2 separate regions of the Homo sapiens genome follow, and region 2 is linked to region 1. Evidence: fine-mapped QTL for protein levels in blood plasma. Region 1 holds a variant in brackets. A gene starts in the other region. All regions are shown on their forward strands.

Region 1 (16,152 bases):
CCCCATGAGTCAATTACTTCCCATCAGTTCCCTCCCAAGACTTATGAGGATTATGGGAACTAAAATTCAAGATGAGATTTGGGTGGGTTTGGCTCAAGATGAGCCAGACCATATCATGAAGTTATCAGTATGAATTCAGTTTTTAATAGAGAAGGAAAAAAAAAAAATATATATATATATATATATATTTTATGTGTTTCCTAGCTCTGTCTGCCTAAAAGAAAGAATATCACAGTTAATAATGAGCACCTTTACCTCCCAGATACTGTTTTCGAAATAGCATTCTGCACTCTAAATAGATCCCAAAGGATCTAGGGATCCCTGGAAAAATAGCTGATTTCAGGCCTATGGCAGTAAAAGCACAAGCTAATTCTTGATTCTTTTTTGGGATGCAAAATAAGGATATACTATAAAAAAAAAAAAAAAAAGACTCAGGAGCCAGCTTGAAGCTCTCCCATTGGCCAAATGCAGGATAATTTGAACATTAATAGTATGAATATGTCATAATACCAATGAACTATAGAATTCCATAATTACATAGAATTCTAATAATTATAGAATTAATTTTCTCCAAATAAAATATGAAGCTAAAAATGCAAACTGGAATAAATGATTAAAGGAAATCTACTTTATAAAGCCAATTATTGAATGTTGAAGAAATGATACAGTTAAAAAATAACTGTTTCTTACAACTATCATAGTAATTAATAATTTGCTTAAACAAGAATCATCAATGGATGCTAAAATTAATAGGTGAAATTTTAATGCTAAGCAGAGTATTTGCATAGTCTCAAAGTTTTTCCCTACAAATTACTTTTAATTATAAACACGGAAATAGTAATTTTAAAGCAGAGAAACCTGACAAACTCCACATTAACCAAGAGATCAAAGCTAACATCACCAATATTGAGACAAACCAGTATCATCTACCTTCTGATACTGATTCACTGAAAAAGAAACAGTATCACTCTTGTGGTGTTTTTCAAAAAAAAGAAAAGAAAAGAAAAGAAAAACCTAAATCTAATCATGTGGAAATCTCAGGGATACACAAAATCAGGAGATGCTCTAAATAACAACTGGCATATCCTTCAAAAATGTCAAGGTTATGAAAGAGACAGGACGGCTGAGAAACTGATCCAGATTAAAGAAAACCACAGAAGCATGACAAATAAATGCATGGCATGACTCCAGATTGGATCCTGGACCAGGAAAAATAATTTGTCTATAAAGGGCATTATCAGGACAATTAACTAAATTTACATTTGACTGTGGATTAGATAATGAGTGGGTCCTGTGTTAAACCTAAACCTATTGCTTTTGATCATGGCATGTGACGATATAAGAGAATGTCTTTGTTCCAAAATATACACATCCAAGTATTTAGGAGTAAAGGAGCATCGTGTTGCAACTTACTCCCAAATGCTTTGAAAAATATATATGTGTATATGTGTGTGTGTGTGTGTGTGAGCGGGAGAGAGAACACAAATGAGATGGCAAATGGGGCAAACTTAACAATTAGTGAACCTGGGTACAGGCTAAGAGTAGTTATTCTTACTATTGTTGTAACTTTTCTGTACTTCTGAAATTATATCGGGACTAAAAAATTACCAAAAAGTTGTTTAAACATGACTGAACTAAATGTTTGCTATAATACTTCCTCAGTCTAAAATCCATATGGCTAGGATTCTGATTTTCACCTCCTTTTCCTAAAAGGAGTCAATGCAAGTATAACCAGACAGTGCGAGTATAACTGACAAAATATACTCCGAAGACAACAGAAGTCTCTCTATTCCTATTTTCTATTTTTTGAATTCAATGCGCTACAGATTTTGTGATTGCAGGCTTCAGTTTTCTCACTATATAATCCTAAATAACAGTGGAGGTACAATGTCACAACATAGCTCCTGCCTCTGGTATAATCAGCTATAGAAGAGAAACTAAGAGAAACTGCTGGCACTAAGAACCATAGTTTGAAAAACTGGCTTCAGTTTCAACAACCGTAATTTTTAAGCCTTTATGTGTTTATTTAACTCTCCCGTGCACTGAAAATTCCAGGTTTGGTATTAGACAAAATATCTCTGAATTTCCTCCATCATCCTGACCCTATAGACCAAATAGTTTAATACCAATGAAATATAAAATGTACATGTAGAAATGAACTAGAAATTTTTTATTGGAATAACTAATGTTTTAATTTATATAAATTGACCCAGAGAAGACTCTCATGGCCCAGGGTAAGAGTATTGTTTGATTTTTTTTAATTTCTAGTCAAATGTTTCCACTTAGCACAGTAATCTTCATCCTCAACTCTCATGGTAGAATAATAACAACAACAATAATAATAAATAGCATTGCCAGGCACTGTTCTAAGTGATTTACAATACTGATTAATTTAAGTCATTAAATTATTTTATGGGTAATGTAATTAATGTGTTCTAACAATCAGGCCGGGCACGGGGTGGTTCACGCCTTTAATCCCAGGACTTTGGGAGGCCCAGGTGCGTGGATCACCTGAGATCAGGAATTCGAGACCAGCCTGACCAACATAGTGAAACCCCATCTCTACTAAAAATACAAAAAAAATTAGCCAGATGTGGTCGTAGGAACCTGTAATCCCAGCTACTTGGGAGGCTGAGGCAGGAGAATTGCTTGAACCTGGGAGGTGGAGGTTGCAGTGAGCAAAGAGAGTGCCATTGCACTCCAGCCTGGGCAACAAGAGCGGAACTCCATCTCAAAAAAAAAAAAAAGTATTATAACACTCCTTATTTTATAGAAAAGAAAAACCAAAGCACACAAATGGTTAGGTAAGCTGCCCAAGGTCACAAAGCTAGTAAGGTTGGGTCTGGGATTCAAACACAGACCCTCTCGCTCCAGAATCTGGGTTCCTAATACTTGTAAAATGCCACATTTCAGGCATCAGCAAGACCTTTTGCATATTACTTTCTTTTTTATCTTCCACAGAAACCCCAATGCTTGACTAAGAGGCTGATATTTGCAGCTGAGTATATTGAATTCTTTCCTCCTACCTGGGGAACAGGCGCCCTCTGTGTCCTAAATGCCACATTCCCATTGTGCTTTGTGTCAGATCTAATAGACCAATCCCTGCACAATCAGGCAAGCCAGAGTCAGTGAACTGGATTTCTACTCTGTGCCTCCAGATCTTGATGTCTGCTGGCACTTTGCTTTGTTCACTCCTTTGGGAAAAGAATAAAAGGGTAGGGCAGGATGTTGAATACCATGGAAAGCAGTGGGTGGTGCCTGGAAGTGAGAACAGCTTCTTTACTACCTATTTCTCTGAACCTTAGCTTCTTCCCTTACGATAAATAAATGCATTTAGTACTTAACAGCTTACTAGTGGCTTTTATGGGCAGTTTTCTTAAAATGGAGCATAAAATTCTTAGGTCACAAAATTACATATTAAGAAACATAGATTATGTAAAAATGATTGTAAACTTTTAAACTATGTACAAATATTAGTTATATTAACAGTCATTAACACCCAGGTCCAAGACCAGGAATTAAGTAATAATTATTTCTATCTTCTGTGAGATCATTGGAGCAGAAGTGGTTACAAATTGATACCTTGCATTTAAAGATTAAGAACCTATCAGATAAAACAAAACATCCTATTGGACTCCTTACTTTCCCATCATCAAAAGCCAGAAGACTAGTACAGACAGACTGCTAATCACTATTTGGGCTCATAAGTAAAACATAAAGAGTAACATGAAATAATCCTGTGTTTTTTTTTTACTCTATTAAAATGACAGCAAATTCTTAGGCAAACTCTACAGTTTCCATTCGTTGAAATTAGAAGAACCTGCTTGGAAGTAATGCAAAACTTGGGTTTCTAAGTGAAGAAGCACATATGAGCCAAAAAGCTAAGGGGACATTTAGAACTTGGTAAGAAATCTCTGTGGCTCTAGTGAGAGACCTTCATGGCCTTACTACAAGGCCACTGAAGCTTTAGTGTGAGAACTTTATGATCTTTACAAGGAAGGTTTCTAAGGTCCTGGTGTGAGGTCCTCTGTTACTGATGTGAGACCACTGTGGCTGGCATTACCTTGACTCACTGAAACTTAGCTTTGCATTTCAAAGCTCTTGGAAAAGGTATATAATGTTAGAGAACTAGCACTTCAGTCCCATTAAAACCCACAACAAGAGTACCATTTCAGATGGATGAAATGATTTTTACCTCCTGTAATATTTCTCAGGGAAGACCACAAGCCAAGACTATAAGAAGAAGCAAAGACCTAGAATAGCCACCATAATACTGAAGAAGAAAAAAGTTGAAAGGTTGGAATGATCAAAATCCAGAACACTGACAACACCAAACACTGGTGAGGATGTGGAGCAACAAGAACTTTCCTTCATTGCTGGTGGAAATGCAAAATGGTACAGCCACTTTGGAAGACAGTTTGGTGATTTCATTTACAAAACTAAACGTACCGTTACCATATGATCTAGCAATCACACTCCTTGGTATTTATGCAAAGGAATTAAAAACTTATGCCCACACAAAAATCTGCACATGAATGTTTGTTTATATATCCTTGTCAAAACTTGGAAGCAGCCAAGATGTTCTTTAGTAGGTGAATGGATGAATAAACTGCAGTACATTCATACAATGGAATACTATTCAGTGCTAAGAAGAAATGCACTATCAAGCCATGAAAAAACATGGAGTAAATCTAAATGCCTATTGCTAAGTAAAACAGGCCAATCTGAAAAGGCTGTATGATTCCAACTCTATGACATTCTGGAAAGGTTATAACAATAAAGACTATAAAAAGATCAGTGGTTGCCAGGGGTTAGGGAAAAGGAAGAATGAACAGTTAAAGCCAAAAGGATTTTTAAGGCAATGAAAATACTCTGCACGATACTATAATGGTGGCTATATGTCATTATAAGTTTGTTCAAATCCATAGAATGTACAACATGAAGAGCATATCCTAATGTAAACTGTGGATTCTGGGGGATAATGATGTTTTAATGTAGGTTCATCAAATGTAACAAATATACCACTCTGTTAGGAGATATGGACAATGAAGGAGGCTATGCATGTGTGAAGACAGGGAATCTATGGAAAATCTCTGTACTTTCATCTCAATTTTGCTAGGGACCTAAAACTGCTTTAAAAAATAAAGTCTTTATTACAAAAATATTTTTAAATAGGCAAAAAGATCTAAGGAGACACCTCAACCAGAGAAGATATACAGATGGCAAATAAACATGAAAAAGTGTTCCACGTTGTATGTTATTACGGACTGAAAATTAAAACAACAATAAGATATCACTATATGCCTATTAGAATGACTAAAATGAAAAAAAATCTGACAATACTAATTACTGGCAAGGATGCAGATAAACAGGAACTGTCATGTATTGCTGGTGGGAATGCAAAATGATAGGATCACTTTGGAAGACAGTTTGGTAGTTTCTTACAAAGCTTAACCTAGTTTTACTATGTAATTCATCACGTGCACTCCTAGCTATCCACTCAAGTGATTTAAAAACTTATGTTTCTGCAAAAACCTACATGCACAAGTTTATAGCAGCTTTATTTATAATCATCGAAAACCAGAAGCAATCAAGATGTCCTTCAACAGGCAAATGAATTTTAAAAAACTGTTGTGTACACATACAGTAGAATATTATTCACTGAGAAAAAGAAAGAAGCTATTGATCTATGAAGGAACATGGATGAATCTTAAATGCATGTTGTAAGTGAAAAGAAGCCAGTATAGAAAGGGTACATATGCTATGATTCTAATTATATGATGTTCCACCATGATTGCTAGATCATATGGTAACAGTAAGTTTAGTTTTATAAAAAAATCACCAAACTGTCTTCCAAAGTGGCTGTACCATGTTGCATTTCCACCAACAATGAAGGAGAGTTCTTGTTGCTCCACATCCTCACCAGCGTTTTGTGTTGTCAGTGTTCTGGATTTTGGTCATTCCAATCTTTCGACTTTTATTCTTGCTCAGTATTATATTGACTATTCTAGGTCTTTGGTTCTCCTTATAAATTAATAATCAACTTGTAAATATTTGCAAAATGTTTGCAAAACTCTATAAAGAAGATTAAAAATAGAAGGTTAGTGGTTTCCTGGAGGGAGGGAGAGAGGAGGGTTGAATAGGTGAAGCACTAGGGATTTTTTAGGGTGGTGAAAATATCCTGTACAATATTGTAATTGTGGCCAAATGACACTTTGCCAAAACGCATTGAACTTTGCAGTTCAAAGAGTGAAAATCCATATAAATTTTAAAAATCATTTAAGAGTTTGGGAGAATGTCAGGATGAAATGCAAAATGTGACAATATAATTTCTTTATTATTTATTTATTTTTATTTTTATTTTTATTTTATTTTACCTTTTAAATTTTTTATTATTATACTTTAAGTTTTAGGGTACATGTGCACAATGTTCAGGTTAGTTACATATGTATACATGCGACATGCTGGTGCGCTGCACCCACTAACTTGTCATCTAGCATTAGGTATATCTCCCGATGCTATCCCTCCCCCCTCCCCCCACCCCACAACAGTCCCCAGAGTGTGATGTTCCCCTTCCTGTGTCCATGTGTTCTCATTGTTCAGTTCCCACCTATGAGTGAGAATATGCGGTGTTTGGTTTTTTGTTCTTGCAATAGTTTACTGAGAATGATGATTTCCAATTTCATCCATGTCCCAACAAAGGACATGAACTCATCATTTTTTATGGCC[A/G]CATAGTATTCCATCGTGTATATGTGCCACATTTTCTTAATCTAGTCTATCATTGTTGGACATTTGGATTGGTTCCAAGTCTTCGCTATTGTGAATAGTGCCACAGTAAACATACGTGTGCATGTGTCTTTATAGCAGCATGATTTATATTCCTTTGGGTATATACCCAGTAATGGGATGGCTGGGTCAAATGGTATTTCTAGTTCTAGATCCCTGAGGAATCGCCACACTGACTTCCACAATGGTTGAACTAGTTTACAGTCCCACCAACAGTGTAAAAGTGTTCCTATTTCTCCACATCCTCTCCAGCACCTGTTGTTTCCTGACTTTTTAATGATTGCCATTCTAACTGGTGTGAGATGATATCTCACTGTGGTTTTGATTTGCATTTCTCTGATGGCCAGTGATGGTGAGCATTTTTTCATGTGTTTTTGGCTGCATAAATGTCTTCTTTTGAGAAGTGTCTGTTCATGTCCTTCGCCCACTTTTTGATGGGGTTGTTTGTTTTTTTCTTGTAAATTTGTTTGAGTTCATTGTAGATTCTTGATATTAGCCCTTTGTCAGATGAGTAGGTTGCGAAAATTTTCTCCCATTTTGTGGGTTGCCTGTTCATGCTGATGGTAGTTTCTTTTGCTGTGCAGAAGCTCTTGAGTTTAATGAGATCCCATTTGTCAATTTTGTCTTTTGTTGCCATTGCTTTTGGTGTTTTAGACATGAAGTCCTTGCCCATGCCTATGTCCTGAATGGTAATGCCTAGGTTTTCTTCTAGGGTTTTTATGGTTTTAGGTCTAACGTTTAAGTCTTTAATCCATCTTGAATTGATTTTTGTATAAGGTGTAAGGAAGGGATCCAGTTTCAGCTTTCTACATATGACTAGCCAGTTTTCCCAGCACCATTTATTAAATAGGGAATCCTTTCCCATTGCTTGTTTTTCTCAGGTTTGTCAAAGATCAGATAGTTGTAGATATGTGGCATTATTTTTGAGGGCTCTGTTCTGTACCATTGATCTATAGCTCTGTTTTGGTACCAGTACCATGCTGTTTTGGTTACTGTAGCCTTGTAGTATAGTTTGAAGTCAGGTAGTGTGATGCCTCCAACTTTGTTCTTTTGGCTTAGGATTGACTTGGTGATGTGGGCTCTTTTTTGGTTCCATATGAACTTTAAAGTAGTTTGTTCCATGTACAAAAATCACAAGCATTCTTATACACCAATAACAGACAAACAGAGAGCCAAATCATGAGTGAACTCCCATTCACAATTGCTTCAAAGAGAATAAAATACCTTGGAATCCACCTTACAAGGGACGTGAAGGACCTCTTCAAAGAGAACTACAAACCACTGCTCAATGAAATAAAAGAAGATAGAAACAAATGGAAGAACATTCCATGCTCATGGGTAGGAAGAATCAATATCGTGAAAATGGCCATATAACTTAATTGTATCACAGTTAGTATAAAAAACTCTCACTGAAGACGGTAGGGACAAAAGTGCTGGCCTACATAACTTTGAAAATAAGTGGAGTCTGTAAAACTAAAGGTCAAAGAAACTACACATAAGTACTGCAGTATAGTTAATAAAGTTGTTTCTCATAAAGTTATTGGTTAACGATTCTGATGTTTTTACACATGTATACCAAAATTAAACAATTAATAAATGGATGGCAGATCATGGCAGGCAGTTTCTCACTGTTGGAGCAGGAGTTTGCAGATAAGCAAGGGGGAGATGGAATGATCCATGTACTAATGGATCAGAGTCGGAGATGTCAGTATGAACTTAAGTTTAGCTTAATATGGATATATATAAACACCAATTATTTCTACATAAAGAAATATTTCTGTATAAGTACATAAACACAGGTTACTAAGGGACTAGAAGCAAAGACACACAAGAGCAATGAGCATACCCAGATCTTGGTTTCTGATGCCACTATCTGAAAAAAGAAACTAGGACTCCTTAGAGAAATGGCTGATTCTACGACTGGGGCAGGAAATATACAAGATGAACCTGAAATCCCTTGTAGAACCAGAAAGTGAGGAAGGGCTCATTAAAAAGTGGGGGGAGTGGGGAGAGACAAGAGATGAACCTCTCATGCAGAATAGTTCTAAAGAATTTGTATGAATACTCAAGGAAGTGGAACATAACTCTCCACTCCTTACACTTGGAAAGAGGGAGGGAAAGAATAACTTTACAATGAAAAAGACTTTCAAACACTGTCTCCTCTGGGTGACGAAGGACAACATAGAAAGGGACAAGTTATGTTGATAGTATATACTCCTGATGTGACATGATGAAAATGGCACATTAACTTTGCCTCTGAGGTCTTTCTAATCAAAAATCCCATAACTCCAGTCTAATCAAGAGAAAATTATCAGACACATCTTCACAAAGAGACATGCTGCAAAATACCTGACCAGTATTCTTTAAATCATCAAGGTCATCAAAAGCAAGGAAAGTCTGAGAAACTGTCACAGCCAAGAGGAACCTAAGGAGACCCAACATCTAAATAAAATAAATAAATCCCCGTCCAGGATGGGGTCCTGGGACAGAAAAATACATGAGGCACGACTAAAGGAACCTGAATAAGATATGAACTTTAATTAATAATAATGTGACAATTGGTTCATTAATTGTAACAAATATACCATGGTATTGTAGGATAGGAGAAACTGAGTGCAAGACACATGGGAACTCCATGTGCTAGCTCCACAATTTTTCTATAAATTTAAAATTGTTCTAAAAATAAAGCTTGTTTAAGAAAATAAAAACAGGGGGATGGCAGCTAGATGCTAGGCTACAGACTATCAATGCATAAGATTTTAATCCCTAAATCATTAGTCCCTGCATCGTTAGGACTTAACCTGCATCAGTTTCCAGGGCGAAGGAAACTCGATGAAAGGAAACTTCTTACATTCATATGCCTTGTCACACTGTGAGTCACACTCACCAAATGGTCTCTCCAATTTACTGATTATATTAATACTCCTAAATTACTCATCTATACCTTCACCCACTTAAAATAATTGGGTTTTTTATTAAATACAGTATGTATGTTATTTTCTTGGGCTGAAACAACTCAATTAAATTACCACTAACTCAAAAGGAAATCAGAAATATAAAAAGTTTCATTCTCGGAATACTGTCTCTGGGAGAAAAAGGCGGGTTTTCGGTTTTTGCTTTATTTTAGTTTGTTTTTTGGTACTCTTCAATGTAACTATAAGAATGGAAGTCATGGGAGAATAAAGGGAAAACAAGAAGGCCTGGTTACTGTTGTGGAAGAAAGACTTTCTTAGGAGAAAGGTTGAGGAATTTACTAGAGAGCAATGTCAGGAAAAATGAGAATCTGGAGGCCGGGCTAGGCACACATCAAAGGAATCTGCATCTAATTACTCAGAAAGAAGAAACTGAAAAAGAGAGGTTTTTGTTTCTAGATTGGAAAGGGTGACTACTAACATCCAAAAAAGTAAACAAATAACAGAAAACTAACAGAAGAGACCCCTCCCCAGGAACTAGTTATATAAAGTGGGCACATATTTGAGAAGAGAAAACCAGGAAAATTAGCCGAAATAGTATTACGTGATTTTCAGATTCACATATATGTTGTAGGTAAAGATGCAGGTATTTCCAGTGTGAGAGAGAAACATAATCAAGATATTTGAAGAGTCAGCTCTCATAGAAAAGAAACAATGAAAATGAGATCTACTAAGGCTAGCAAGGGGCAGGAGTAATATATGAGGTCAAGGTTTAGGTCAGATGCTGTTCTGATAGAATAATTCCTAAGTGGCATTACCCACAGTGGGGAAAAGTTGGACAAAATATGTTTGAATAAAGCCTCTTTTATTAGAACTAGAATTTATCAACTTCCTATCTCTCACTGTGGAGAACTCCATAAACATATTTAAAGAAAGTATTTAAAAAAAACCACCTGAGAACGTGAAAGCAAATGGAATATTAAAGGAATTTGAAGGCATTATATTCCAACAAATAGTTACCCATAAGATGGTAGAAAAGGAAATAGATCACATTTAGAAATAGTTTGAGTTTATATATCACCTGACCATGCCTAAAATGAGTAGGCGAGTACAGCATGGAGACCATAATTTAAAATATTGTATTGAATACTTGAAATTGCCAAAAGGACAGATCTTGAGTGTTCTCACCACACATATACAAAAAAAAGGTCACTATGTGAAGCGATGGCTATGTTAACTAGCTAGATTATGGTGAGCATTTCACAATGTATACATAAATCAAAATAGGAAGTTGCACACCCTAAATATATACAATTTCTATTTATCACTTATACCCTAATAAAGCTGAAAATATTAAAATATTTTAAAAAATACATATAAAGTTGATTTTATTTAAGTACAAAAATAAAATGAAATGAGTGGGCATTCGTGAGGGGGCTTTAAACTGTAGAGGAATATCTCACCAGCAGGAGACAGGTTGGGGAGATGTCTTCAACCTAAATTTTACTCTCAAACTGGAACATTCAAAAGCAGAGGAAGACAGAGTTTTGAGGAGCCAATGGCAGAGATGTTGGCCTTGCTAGGCCCTTTGGGGTTATAGGATTCAGAAGCAGCAACAGAGTATACATTGGTTTTAGAGTGAGGGGGTTTATCACAAGCTTGAAATGTTTCTGTGTGGGGGAGAAGTTTATGTTGGGGTCAGACTGTCTCTGGGTGGAGGGGAGATTATCTCGGGTCTGGCATGCCTCTGGTAGGGGAGAGGTTTGGAATTTTTTTGGTCAGAGATATTATTTGTGGTTTATGGTCATGCTGACCTTAGCCAGAAGGCTGATGACCTTTGGATTTAGGCAGTTTTTGATCAAGGTGAACTTAAAATGACAGTGCTTGTCCAAGATGGCAATACTCCTGCTCTGTCACCAGCGATAACAGGTTTTTTAAAAATATTGCATTACAAACACATTTAAAGGAAATTTTACTATTAGGAAATATATTCACTTACAGGCAAACAGGATTTCTCTTCTTGCCTGAGAATACATGCTCCAGCTATCAATACCATTTAGTGTGGACACCCCTCATCAACACTAAGTTTTACCAAGCACATGAGGAAACATGCATCACTTACAGGACTTACTCAAAAACAAATCCACCTCCAGCCCCAGAAAGCAGACATAAAAAGAGACACAATTTTTTTCTTATTAAAATTATATTCTCAGGGATACTAAATTTAGAAAAACAAGCTATCACTGTAGAAGGAAAATAATTTTAATAAATTGAGAACATTGTTTTAAAGCACATGGTCTATGATTCACATTACATGACTCTGTGCAAACAACCCCAGGTACCAGCCCGGAGCCTGGTAGACCTGCTGGGTGGTTAGATCCAGAAGAACAATAACAATCACTACAGCTCAGCTCTCAGGAAGCCACATCCCTAGGAAAAGGGGAAAGTGCTATGTCAAGGGAACACCCCATGGGCAAAAGAATCTGAACAACAGCCTTGAGCCCTAGACTTTCCCTTTGACATAGTCTACCCAAATGAGAAGGAACTAGAAAAACAATTCTGGTAATATGACAAAACAAAGTTCTTTAACACCCCCAAATAATCACACTAGTTCACCAGCAATGGATCCAAACAAAAAAGAAATCCGTGATTTACCTGAAAAAGAATTCAAAAGGTCAGCTATTAACCTAATCAAGAAGGCATCATAGAAAGGTGAAGTTCAATTTAAGGAAATCAAAAAATGATACAAGAAATGAGAAGAGACATCTTCAGTGAAATATATAGCATAAATAAAAAAACAATCAAAACTTCAAGAAATAGTGGATGCACTTTGAGAAATGCAAAATACTCTGGAAAGTCTCAGCAATAGAATTGAACAGGCAGAAGAAAAAACCTCAACCTCAAAGATAAAGTTTTTAAATTAACCCAATCCAACAAAGACAAAGAAAAAATGAACAAAGACTCCAAAAAGATTTGGATTACATTAAATGACCAAACCTAAGAGTAACTGGTGTTCCTGAGGAGGAAGAGAAATCTAAAAGTTTGGAAAACGTATTTGGGGGAATAAATGAGGAAAACTCCACTGGCCTTGCTAGAGACCTAGATATCCAAATACAAGAAGCTCAAAGAATACTTGGGAAATTCATCATAAAAAGATCATTGCCTAGGCACATTGTCATCAGGTTATCTAAAGTTAACACAAAGGAAAGAATCTTAAGAGCCACAAGGGAAAAGCATCAGGTAACCTATAAAGGAAAACCTCAAGGGAAAAGCATCAGGTAACCTGTAAAGGAAAACCTATCAGATTAACAGCAGGTTTCTCAGCAGAAACCCTACATACTAGAAGGGCTTAGGGCCCTATCTTCAACCTCCTTAAACAAAACAATTATCAGCAAATAATTTTGTACCCAGCAAAACTAACCTTCATAAATGAAGGAAAGATACAAAGGGAAATCTATCAGATTAACAGCAGATTTCTCAGCAGAAACCCTGCAAGCTAGAAGGGATTAGGTCTCTATCTTCAGCCCCCTAAAACAAAACAATATCAGCCAAGAATTTTGTAGCCAGCCAAACTAACCTTCATAAATGAAGGAAAGATACAGTCTTTTTCAGACAAACAAATGCCGAGTGAGTCACCACTACAAAGCCAGCACTACAAGAACTGATAAAAGAAGCTCTAAATCTTGAAATGAATCCTGAACACATCAAAACAGAACCTCTTTAAAGCATAAATTTCACAGGACCTATAAAACAAAAATACAACTAAAAAAAATTAGCATGATAAATTAAACAGTTCCTCACATCTCAAAACTAATATTGAATGTAAATGGTCTAAATGTTCCACTTAAAAGATGCAGAATGGATAGGAATTCACCAATCAATTATCTGCTGCCTTCAAGAGACACATCTAACACATAAGGACTCACATAAACTTAAGGTAAAGAGGTGGAAGAAGACATTCCATGCAAATGGATGCCAAAAGCAAGCAGTAGTAGCTATTCTTTTATCAGACAAAACAAACTTTAAAGCAACAGCAGTTTAAAAAGACAAAGAGGGATAAAAGGCCTTGCCCAACAGGAAAATATGGCAATCCTGAATATGTATGCACCTAACTCTGGAGCTCCCAAATTTATAAAACAAGTACTATTAGACCTAAGAAATGGGATAGACAGCAACACAATAATAGTGGGGGACTTCAATACTGCCCTGAGGGCACTAGACAAGTCATCAAAACAGAAAGTCTCAATGGATTTAAAAGAAAGTCACAGAAAGAAACAATGGATTTAAACTATACCCTGGAATAAATAGACTTAACAGATATTTACAGAACATTCTACCCAACAACCTCAGAGTATACGTTCTATTCAACAGTGCATGGAACTTTCTCCAAGATAAACCATATGATAGGCCACAAAACAAGTCTCAATAAATTTAAGAAAATTGAAATTATATCAAATACTCTGTCAGACCAGAGTGGAATAAAACTGGAAATCAACTCCAAAGGGAACCTTCAAAACCACGCAATTATGTGGAAATTAAATAACCTGCTCCAGAATGATCATTGGGTCAACAATGAAATCAAGATGTAAGTTAAAAATTCTTCAAAATGAATGACAGTAGTGACACAACCTATCGAAACCTCTGGGATACAGCAAAGGTGTTGCTAAGAGGAAAGTTCATAGCCCTGAATGCCTACATCAAAAAGTCTGGAAAACTTTCTAAGTCTTTCTAAACAATCTAAGGTCACACCACAAGGAACTAGAGAAACAAGAACAAACCAAATCCAAACCCAGCAGAAGAAAGGAAATAACCAAGATCAGAGCAGAACTATATCAAATTGAAACCAAAAAAAAAAAGATAAAAGAAACAAAAAGCTGGTTCTTTGAAAAGATAAATAAAATTGATAGACCATTCACAAGATTAACCAAGACAAGAAGAGAGAAAATCCAAATAACCTCACTAAGAAACAAAACAAGAGATATTACAACTGACACCACAGAAATACAAAAGATCATTTAGGGCTACTATAACACCTTTATGCACATAAACTAGGAAACTTAGAGGAGATGAATAAATTCCTGGAAACATACAACCCTCCTAGCTTAAATCAGGAAGAATTAGATACCCTGAACAGACCAATAACAAGAAGCAAGATTGAAATGGTAGTTTCAAAATTACCGACAACAAAAAAAGTCCAGGACCAGACAGATTCACAGCAGAATTCTACCAGACATTCAAAGAAGAATTGGTACCAATTCTATTGATATTATTCTACAAGATAAAGAAAGAGGTAATTTTCCCTAAATTATTCTCTGAAGCCAGTATCATCCTAATACTAGGAAAGGACATAACCAAAAATGAAAACATAGATGCTAAAATCCTTAACAAAATACTAGCTAACTAAATCCAACAACATATCAAAAAGATAACCCACCATGATCAAGTGGTTTCATACCAGGGATGCAGGGATGGTTTAACTTACACAAGTCAATATGTAATACACCACACAAACAGAATTAAAAACAAAATCGAAAGATCATCTTGATAGATACAGAAAAGGCATTTGACAAAATCATTTTATGAATAAAACTCAGAAAAATCAGCATACAAGGATCGTACCTCAATGTAGTAAAAGCCATCTATGACAAACCCACAACCAAGTTAATACTGAATGAGGAAAAATTGAAAGCATTCTCTCTGAGAACTGGAACAAGACAAGGATACCCACTTTCACCACTTTTATTCAATATAGTACTGGAAGTTTTAGCCAGAGCAATTAGACAAGAGAAAGAAATAAAGGGCATCCAGATTGGTAAAGAACAACACAAACTGTCACTGTTTGCTGATGATATGATTGTATACCTAGAAAACCCTAAAGACTCCTCCAAAAAGCTCCTAGATCTCATAAATGAATTCAGCAAAGTTTCAGGATACAAAATTAATGTGTGCAAACCAGTAGCCTTCCTATACCCCAACAGCGACCAAACTGAGAATCAAATCAAGAACTCAACTCCTTTTACAATAGCTGCAGATGTATATAGGAATATACCTAATCAAGGAGATAAAAGACCTCTACAAGGAAAACTACAAAACACCGCTGAAAGAAATCATAGATGACAGAAACAAACAGAAACATATCCTATGCTCATGGATGGGTAGAGTCAATATTGTGAAAATGATCATACTACCAAAAGCAATCTACAAATTCAATGCAATTCCCATCATAATACCACCATCATTCTTCACAGAACTAGAAAAAAATCCTAAATTTCATATGGAACCAAAAAAAGCCTGCATAGCCAAAACAAGACTAAACAAAAAGAACAAATCTGGAGGCATCACACTATCTGATTTCAAATTATACTATAAGGCCATAGTCACCAAAACAGCATGGTACTGGTATAAAAATAGACACATAGACCAATGGAACAGAATGGAGAACTCAGAAATAAAC
Region 2 (8,000 bases), not on the chromosome of region 1:
GAGGCTTATTATGTTTTAAATTGTCTGTCTGTAAAATATACTTTCATGAAATTTTGTTTTCTCGGAATCTTCCTTTTTCCTTCTTGTATGAATCTAATGAACTTGAATTTCCAAAGTCATTGAGGTAGGAAAGGTATGTAACATTATGCTTGAGCTTTAGGTCAATAATTTATACGATAGTGGTGGTTTTGTTTTGTTTCGTTTTGTTGAGACAGAGTCTCGTCCTGTCACCCAGGCTGGAGTGCAATGGCATGATCTTGGCTCACTGCAACCCCTGCCTCCCAGGTTCAAGTGATTCTCCCACCTCAGCCTCCCAGGTAGCTGGGATTACAGGTATGCACCTCCATGCCTGGTTAATTTTTGTGTTTTTAGTAGAGACAGGGTTTCACCATGTTGGCTGGGCTGGTCTCCAACTCCTGACCTCAAGTGATCCACCCACCTTGGCCTCCCAGATTCTGGAGTTTTTTAAATGGGTCACCCTATAGAAGGCATGAAGTCATAGAATCATAATAATCACCAAAACCAACCATTGATTTCAATACTAGAAAATTTGAGACACCAGAAGGTGAAGTGACTTGCCTAGAGCCATACAATGGCAGAGGCAGGGACTGCAACCCACTATGAAAGCTTAGGGCTCTTCTCACCCTTTGGTGGCCAAAAGTATTTTGAAATTTTGACCAAAAAAATTAATGTTTATTGATCACTTTAAATCCAAAAGATGAATCCACTGGATTCCACAGTAAATTGGGTGGAATGTAAGGGAGGGATCAAAGGGCAGTGAATATATGAATGGGGAGGAGAACCATTTAGCTAGGTGCAAAAGTAATTGCGGTTTTTGCAATACTTTTGCACCAACCTAATAATTGTTCATAATTCTAAGAGCTATTCGGATCCCATTAGGAGCTTAAAAGGGACAAATGTGCTCAGGGCATGCAGTTTTTGCCTTCCGGAACTAGATCAGGATCATGCATTTAAGCTAGAAAATGGAAAGAGGAGTTGCTTCACCCACAGTCAGTGCTATTGCATCAACCAATCCCTGCCATTCTGCAGTTTCCTGGTGTATCTGCCCGGAGTCACACAGTCTTTCCTGCTAAGCCTCAGCGTCTCCTCCAAGCCACATCAAAATCTTTCCTTCTGGGCCTTTCCCAGAAGTGAATTCTTGCTGGAAGGTATAAAAGACCAGCTCCTCCAAGCAGAGCAACTCCCTGGCTGCCGTGAAAAGACAAGGCACTGGGCAGGTAAGACTCGTCAACTTTCATCTTTCCTGGTTTCTGCAAAGTTGATGATGAAATTTCCTAACGTCTTCTCAGAAAGCTTAACACTGGATTTAGACTTGTCTCTATCAGGCACTTTCTGGTGCCAGCTTTAGCCACCCCATGGCACACTCCTCTTGTTTGGTATAAGAGAGAATGTAATTAAGCCTCCCCCCACCACTGTGGGGGAAAAAGGCTTTTCTGTGTCTGAAAACTATGTCAGAGAATCATAAACTCTTAGGGCTGGAAGGTACCATAGACCTCTCTTATCCACCTTGTTTAGGAACTGAGACTTAAGCAATTTAATGTGTCCAGAGTCACACAGGAATTTGGGGGAAAACAGTGACAGAATGGTGCTCCCTGTGCTGTTCTTGAGACAGTGTGATGAAATCTGGCCTCTCCACTATAGTGGAGATTTTGCAGTGTTTTAAGGGGTTCCCTAAGCCGGAGCTGTCAGGTCTTCATCTCATTTCCAGCATCTCATGCCTGCCATCTGCAGCAGATCCGACCATCTAGTTTGCCCTCAATGTCTAGTCCTAGCTGTCTTAAGTGCCCTGTGGACACCTGGCTCTCAAGCAGGTGTGTGACCTGTATGCAGCGGTAGTAGGCAGGCTTCATTTTGGGGGAATGGGGTGGTTAAATTATATTTGTTTTTTATGCAATTGTGTGCCTCAAATCTTTCAGTTGAAGTAGATTATTTCCGCTCTAGAGGGCTTGATAAGAGCTATCTCTTCATTCTCATCCTGATCTTGGAGTCACTCAAAAGATCAAGAGAGTGTTCCTGCAGGTGATGGGGCAAGAATTATGGCTTTCCTATTGGCTCACTCCACCACCCTCCACAGGGCTCTTTACAATCATGGAAGAGAATCTCACTGACTTCATCCCTTCTCAGGCCTTCCCCCTATCTCCTTGGTGACTGCTCAGCGACATTGAGAACCAAAGTCTGGAAGGCCTTGGTACTCAGAGTGTGGTCTGCAGACCAGCAACATCATCATCACCTGGAGCTTACTGGAAATGCAGACTTTCAGGCCCCTTCTATGACCTTCTGAGTCAGAATCTGCATTTACCAAAATCCCTAGGTGATAGTAGGCACATTACAGTGTGAGAGGCTTGCCGAGGGACTATCTCTGCCCTCTCCCTCTGCAACCTCCAGATGCTGAATTTCTCTGCTCTAGGAGTTTTATTCATTCAGCATGCACCCAACACCTATTATGTATTGACATGCTTAGGTCCTGGGAAAACAAATAAATAAGATGGAGCCCTTGAGGAGTTCATGGTCTGATAGGGGAAACAGATGTGAAGACAGTAATATGAGATATGGATGAAATACTGTGGGAGGACAGAAAAAGGAACGATCTAACTTTTCCTGGAGAAAACTGGTAAACTTCACAGAGGAGGTGAAATTTGGTCTGGGTTTTGAAGAATGAATAGGAGTTTATTAGCCAGAGAGGGTATTGTATAGGGAAGAGCATGAGTAGAGGCATGGGATTGTGGACCAGCCTGGCATTTGAGGGGCAAAGGCTGTGGCTCTGTCTCCAGATAGTGCTTCATGTCCCAGGGAAGGCTCCAGGCTTTGCTGCAAATCAAAGGGCTTGGGAAATGGTTTCTGCACTCAGCATGTTGATAAGAATATGGATAAATATCTACACATCACAGGAGCCTCTTGTTGGCCTCTTACACTCTAAAGCCCCAGGCCCTCTTGCCCTGTGTGGTTCTGGCTGAAGACAGTGTCCCTCTAGAATCTTTCTGCACACCCCCTTTTCAGTGACATGACCTTGTATTCACCTGGCTCTGATTTTTGTTCATACCCGTCCCTCACACCCACCAGGAACATTGCCCAAGACATGGGAAAATAATTTCTCTCTGGCCTTGAAGTCCCCCTCCTCCACTTTCCAGTGAGGAGAGCATGAAGGGGGTCCTAAAGAAGAGGAGAGGAGAATTGAATATTTAAGTATTGTTTCCTGTTCAAATTTCTCAACTTTCATGTCTTCTTCTATGATTTTGTCTTCCTCAGGCTGTCTCAGATGATGTCTTTTTAAAAAATGGACTAATTTTTTACTTTGTGTTTGTCATTTATTAGGAAACGCATTAGTCATTCAAAGAACAATATAATGAATGTTTGTGCCCACAGCCCTCTTTAAAAAAATCAGTGATATGGTGGTTGCCAGGAGCTAGGGGGAAGGGGAAATAGGGAGTTGGTGTTCAATGGGTATAGGGTTTCAGTTTTTACAGGATGAAAATGTTCTAGAGATCCATTGTGCAACATGTGAATATACCTAACATTACAGTACTGTAGAGTTTAAATGACTAGGATGCTAAATTTTATGCTATGTGGATTTTTGTTGTTGTTGTTCTTTTCTTTTCTTTTTTCTTTTTTTTTTTTTTTTTTTTTTTGAGCCAGGCTGGAGTGCAGTGGCGCAATCTTGGCTCACTGCAGCCTCCACCTCCCAGGTTCAAGGGATTCTCCTGCCTCAGTCTCCCGAGTAGCTGGAATTGCCGGTGTCTGCCACCACGCCTGGCTAATTCTTGTATTTCTAGTAGAGACAGGGTTTTACCACATTGACCAGGCTGGTCTCCAACCCCTGACCTCAAGTGATCCGCCTGCCTCAGCCTCCCAAAATTCTGGGATTACAGGCATGAGCCACCACACCTGGCCATGTTTTTTACCATAGTTTGTTTTTTAAAGTCAATGATACCTTTTCCTCCAAAACCATCATCTCTGTTTGTCTGAAGGGCAGATTTCTGCTAACTCAATGAACCCTGCAATGGGTCCCCTGAAGTTGCAAAATATGGTGACAGAGGGATAGGAGGTCACAGAATCTCTTCCTCCTTGGGGCCATACAACTATAAGGACAAGAGCCCACTGAGAGGTCAAGCTGTTTGAGAACTCATCTTGGGGTGGGGGGAAGTAACAGAGAGAATCTTGGCCAGAGAGGTATTTATTCATGCCTTGCCCCTTCTCTAGAGTTAGCTGGCAAAAAGTACAACAAGATACAAATTATTAGGGGGACCACGAAAGGGCAGAGGGAAAAATTGGAGGCAGGCAGGGGTGAAGGAGGCTGAAATGACCTGATCCATATACAGAGGTCTCCTGGTCTGGCCTATTCCAAAGGGAGATGATTTGGAGAGGGTCTGCAAGACATACGGGGAAGTCTGTCAGGCAAAGCTCCAGAACTATGATTTCTCTCTGGGAGCTGAGCCCTGGGGAGACATGGCTGGGGGGCAACCTGAGGCTGCTCTCCTTAGTGTGCTTCTGGATTCCACCAGTGAACGCCGTGCTGCAGGGAGAGCACAGGCGCCCTTGTGAAAGCTGAGGAGCCTCTCAGGACCATGGTCTAAACACACAATCATTCCATCTGCACGCTGTGGCTGCCACCCCGGGCTGGAGCCAGAATCTCCTCAGAAGATGTATGGGGTCTGCTCCACTAAGCCCAGTGAAGACCCTCATCAGAAAACAAAGCTTCACAAATTTCAGTCTAAAGATTTGCATTCAGAGTTAAAGCTCATGGCAAAGAGGTTAATCCATGAGCTGGAATCTTTCCAGGCAGCCTGGGGCACAGCTGTGGGCTCAGGGGAGCTCTGAGCTTTGTCATAACTTTCTTTCAGTATTGCCATCAAGTTGGCACTTTGAGGGAAGGGGAAGCCCCTGCCAGGTTTCCGAAGGGAGGCGCTGAGTGTCTGCCTCTCAGGCATTCTCTCCTGGGGCTGGGCCAGAGGAAACTGGCTTGCAGGGAGCAATGCATCCTGCAGGGAAGGAGGGAGGGGAACTCAAAGGCAGGCTCCAGCCTTGGTAACAGCGTTTCTCACACCTGTGACAAGACAGGTACAGCATCTCCCGACCACAGGCTGTCAGGGCAGAATTGAACATTCTGGATCACTTGGTCCCACCTCCTCCCATAGCAAGCCAGGACCCCAGAGATGTTAAGTAACCTGCCCAAGGTCACAGAGCTATTGGAGCAAATGCAGAATGATAACTCAGGGCCTTAGATCCTGAAGCCTGAGTTCTTTCCCTTCCACCATGTCTTCTCCTCTTTCCATCTCTCCCAGTACCTAGCACAGGCCTGTGTGTATGGTAGATGCTTCATTCGTTAATGTGGTTTCTCCTTTCCTGTTCCAATATTAGGGTGTCTGGTGCTCCTTTGGCTTTCTCTGCTTTCTGTGGTTCAAACCCTCCCACTTGGTCTCTAGAGAGGCTCACAGTGTGATCCTGCATCTCGTTTCAGTGATGAGGGTCCTTCTCCATCTCCCAGCCCTCCTGGCTTCCCTCATCTTGCTTCAGGCTGCAGCATCTACCACAAGAGGTGAGTGTCTCCCTTTACGGGTTTTCTGGGGCTGCTGTCACAAAGCACACCAACTGGATGGCCTAAGACAACAGAAATGTATTCTCTCACAGTACGGGAGGATAGAAGTCCAAAATCAAGGTGTTGGCAGGGCTGTGCTCCCTCTGAAGGCTCTAGGGAAGAATGCTTCCTTTCTTCTTCCAGCTTCTGGTGGCCCTGGTATCCTTGGTGTTCCCTGGCTTGTAGCTGCAACACTCCAATCTCTGCCTCAGTCTTTGCGTGGCCTTTTTCACTGGGTGTCCTCTCCTCTTCTCATAAAACCACCATTTATTGGATTTAGGGCCGATGCTAAGGCAGTATGACCTCATTTTAATTCATAACATCTACAAAGACCCTACTTCCAAATAAGGTCACATTCTGAGGTTCCATGCAGATGTGAATTTTGGGAGGGCCATTATTTAACCCACTACACTCTCCTTGTTGAGAAAACAGATCCTGTCCTCCATGCTCCAGACCCCAATACAAGAGGGAACAGGGAATCCCACCATTACTCTCATGCCATCCCCTTCTGTACGTCAGGGTCCTGGTGATCAGTGGGTCCTCTTTGATGAACTTGAGATAGTCCACAAGACCATCTCACCAGGAACCAGAGAAATCCCCACAGTCCAGTAGCCCAAGCCACCCTGAGTGGCCACACTCCCTCTTCATCCCATCTCTGGGCATTCTAGTGAGATCTCAAAGAGCAATTTTGACATCTTGTTGAAGATCCAAGAGTATTCTTCCCATTCTGTGCTTTTTCCCCTTAAGGACTCTTATGAAACTTTCCTAATCTTGATCTCCTGCCTACCCAGATTTGAGGGGTGGGGGTAATGGCCGAGAAAGAGGGAGACAAAAGCAGAAGACATCGCAAAGGAGTGGTGTCTGACACCCTACTTCCTGCTCCCCACTCCAACCCCAAGCGCAGACTACCAGAACCTCTGCCATCTCCGATACTGTGAGTCAGGCCAAGGTCCAAGTCAACAAGGCCTTCCTGGACTCCCGAACCAGGTACGTGAGACACACACACACACACACACACACACACACACACACACACACTTCCCTTCACAGGCTTCCTGTTCATGACAAGCACATCTAGGCCAGCCCGGATGAGCCAATGAGGTGAACAATGATAAAACTTACCCTTCCATCCTCCTAGCCCTCCAAGTACATGACAAGTAGGAGCAATAGCCCACAATTCCTAAAGTCCTCAGCCTGTACATCACCTGAAAGAGGACATCTAATCTAACCCTAGAAGGACTTTCTTCCACGTGGCCCAATGTTTCCTTGGGCCATGCATTCCAGAGTCCCAGAAAGCCTCTCAGTAAAAGTTCTTCATTCATCCAGCTGATATTGACTGATTCAGCCAGGTCCACCAGAAGCCGAATCCGAGCCCTGCATTCAGGTGCAGGTGACATATTAGGGGAATGCTCACAAGGAAGCTGTGATGGGGTGAAGAAGCAGAAGTGAAGGGGGAGGTTAGACAAATAAAGTGGCTTCAAGTCTATCCTCAGCCTGACCCCACAGGGAGACCTGGAGCAGAAGTTGCTCCTCAGAGCCTGTCCCATCTTGGAGCGAGGGAGCAGAGCCCTCATCTGCCCACATCAGTCAGACATGGCTGCAGGCTTGCAGGTGGCTGAGAGGTGTTGTGGCACACCTGTGGAATTCCCGGGCACCCCCAGCCAGGCCACTCCAGTGGCTCAGAAGCAGGCGCCCAACAAGGTTACTGGAGTGAGCCTGTAGCAGATGCACCCATGGCAGCAAGGGGAAGAGCCCAGGGCCCACAGGGCACCAGTAGAGTCAACTGCCCTCCGATCCTGTACAGGGGCAACGTGGGCGCCTTCCCTCAGGAAACGCACACTCTAGGGAGAGGGCAGACATTGAGAAAAAAAGTAACCTTATTCTTTCCTCTCGCTGTCCCTTTACACTGGACCTGGGCTTCCACTCACTCCTCCTCAGCCCTTGAATGAACTTTCAAGCCGTCAGATAACTTTTTTGGTGACTTAGATGATAAAACACGCTCTGGACGCTTCTAGTCCCCAGACCAGGATTATCTCAGGAATTAAAGTGTCAGCATAAGAAGATAAAGCCAGACCTGCTCTATTCCTTCAGCTCAGAACTGCTTGAGGCCTCTGGCGGGAGAAGAGAGTGCAGTCTCCTTCTCCCTCTTTCTGGGGCTCCTCCTTCCCAGCTTGGGTTTCTGCTCCTTGGGGGTTAAGCTGAAGGAGGAGGGAAAAAGGGGTGGTGAGTCTACATCCCCTGAACAGTTCAGTCCTCAAGGGGCCGGAAGCTCTCTCTCTCTCTCTCCCCTTGGGTGCTTTCCTGGTTTCAGAGAGAGATTCTGCTGCCAACTCTGTGATCTGGAAAATTCTCTGGCCAGTGGCTCCCAGCTCTAACCCTCTCTGCCTGGGAGCATCGGGCCCACTCC

Which allele goes with the higher level. Positions count from the first base shown, and alleles are read on the strand shown. Strength reflects both the effect of a copy and how common the allele is.
As copies of A replace G in region 1, the plasma level of the protein whose gene starts at base 1,083 in region 2 goes down (strong association).

Evidence for each region. PIP is the posterior inclusion probability: the model's chance that the variant is causal. The UK Biobank Pharma Proteomics Project read protein levels with antibody pairs (Olink). The fine-mapping took linkage between variants from a reference panel, not from the people measured, so its PIPs are less certain.
Region 2: it holds the start of LPO, and the variant in region 1 is fine-mapped to the plasma level of the LPO protein (UK Biobank, PIP above 0.99).

The regions. Positions count from the first base shown.
Region 1 is chr12:11,206,225-11,222,376 of GRCh38, forward strand. The region is part of intron 1 of LOC107987435 (a long non-coding RNA gene); the gene reads left to right. Among named protein-coding and RNA genes, the nearest start is that of TAS2R42, 27 kb to the left of the region's middle. The variant A/G (reference allele first, on the strand shown) is at 6,730.
Region 2 is chr17:58,237,502-58,245,501 of GRCh38, forward strand. LPO (lactoperoxidase) reads left to right here and starts at 1,083. Exons shown (of 13, transcript NM_006151.3): 1 at 1,083-1,238; 2 at 5,477-5,554; 3 at 6,493-6,580. The coding sequence starts at 5,479. It overlaps LOC124904038 (a long non-coding RNA gene), which reads right to left. Exons shown (of 3, transcript XR_007065862.1): 2 at 7,668-7,791; 3 at 4,177-7,014.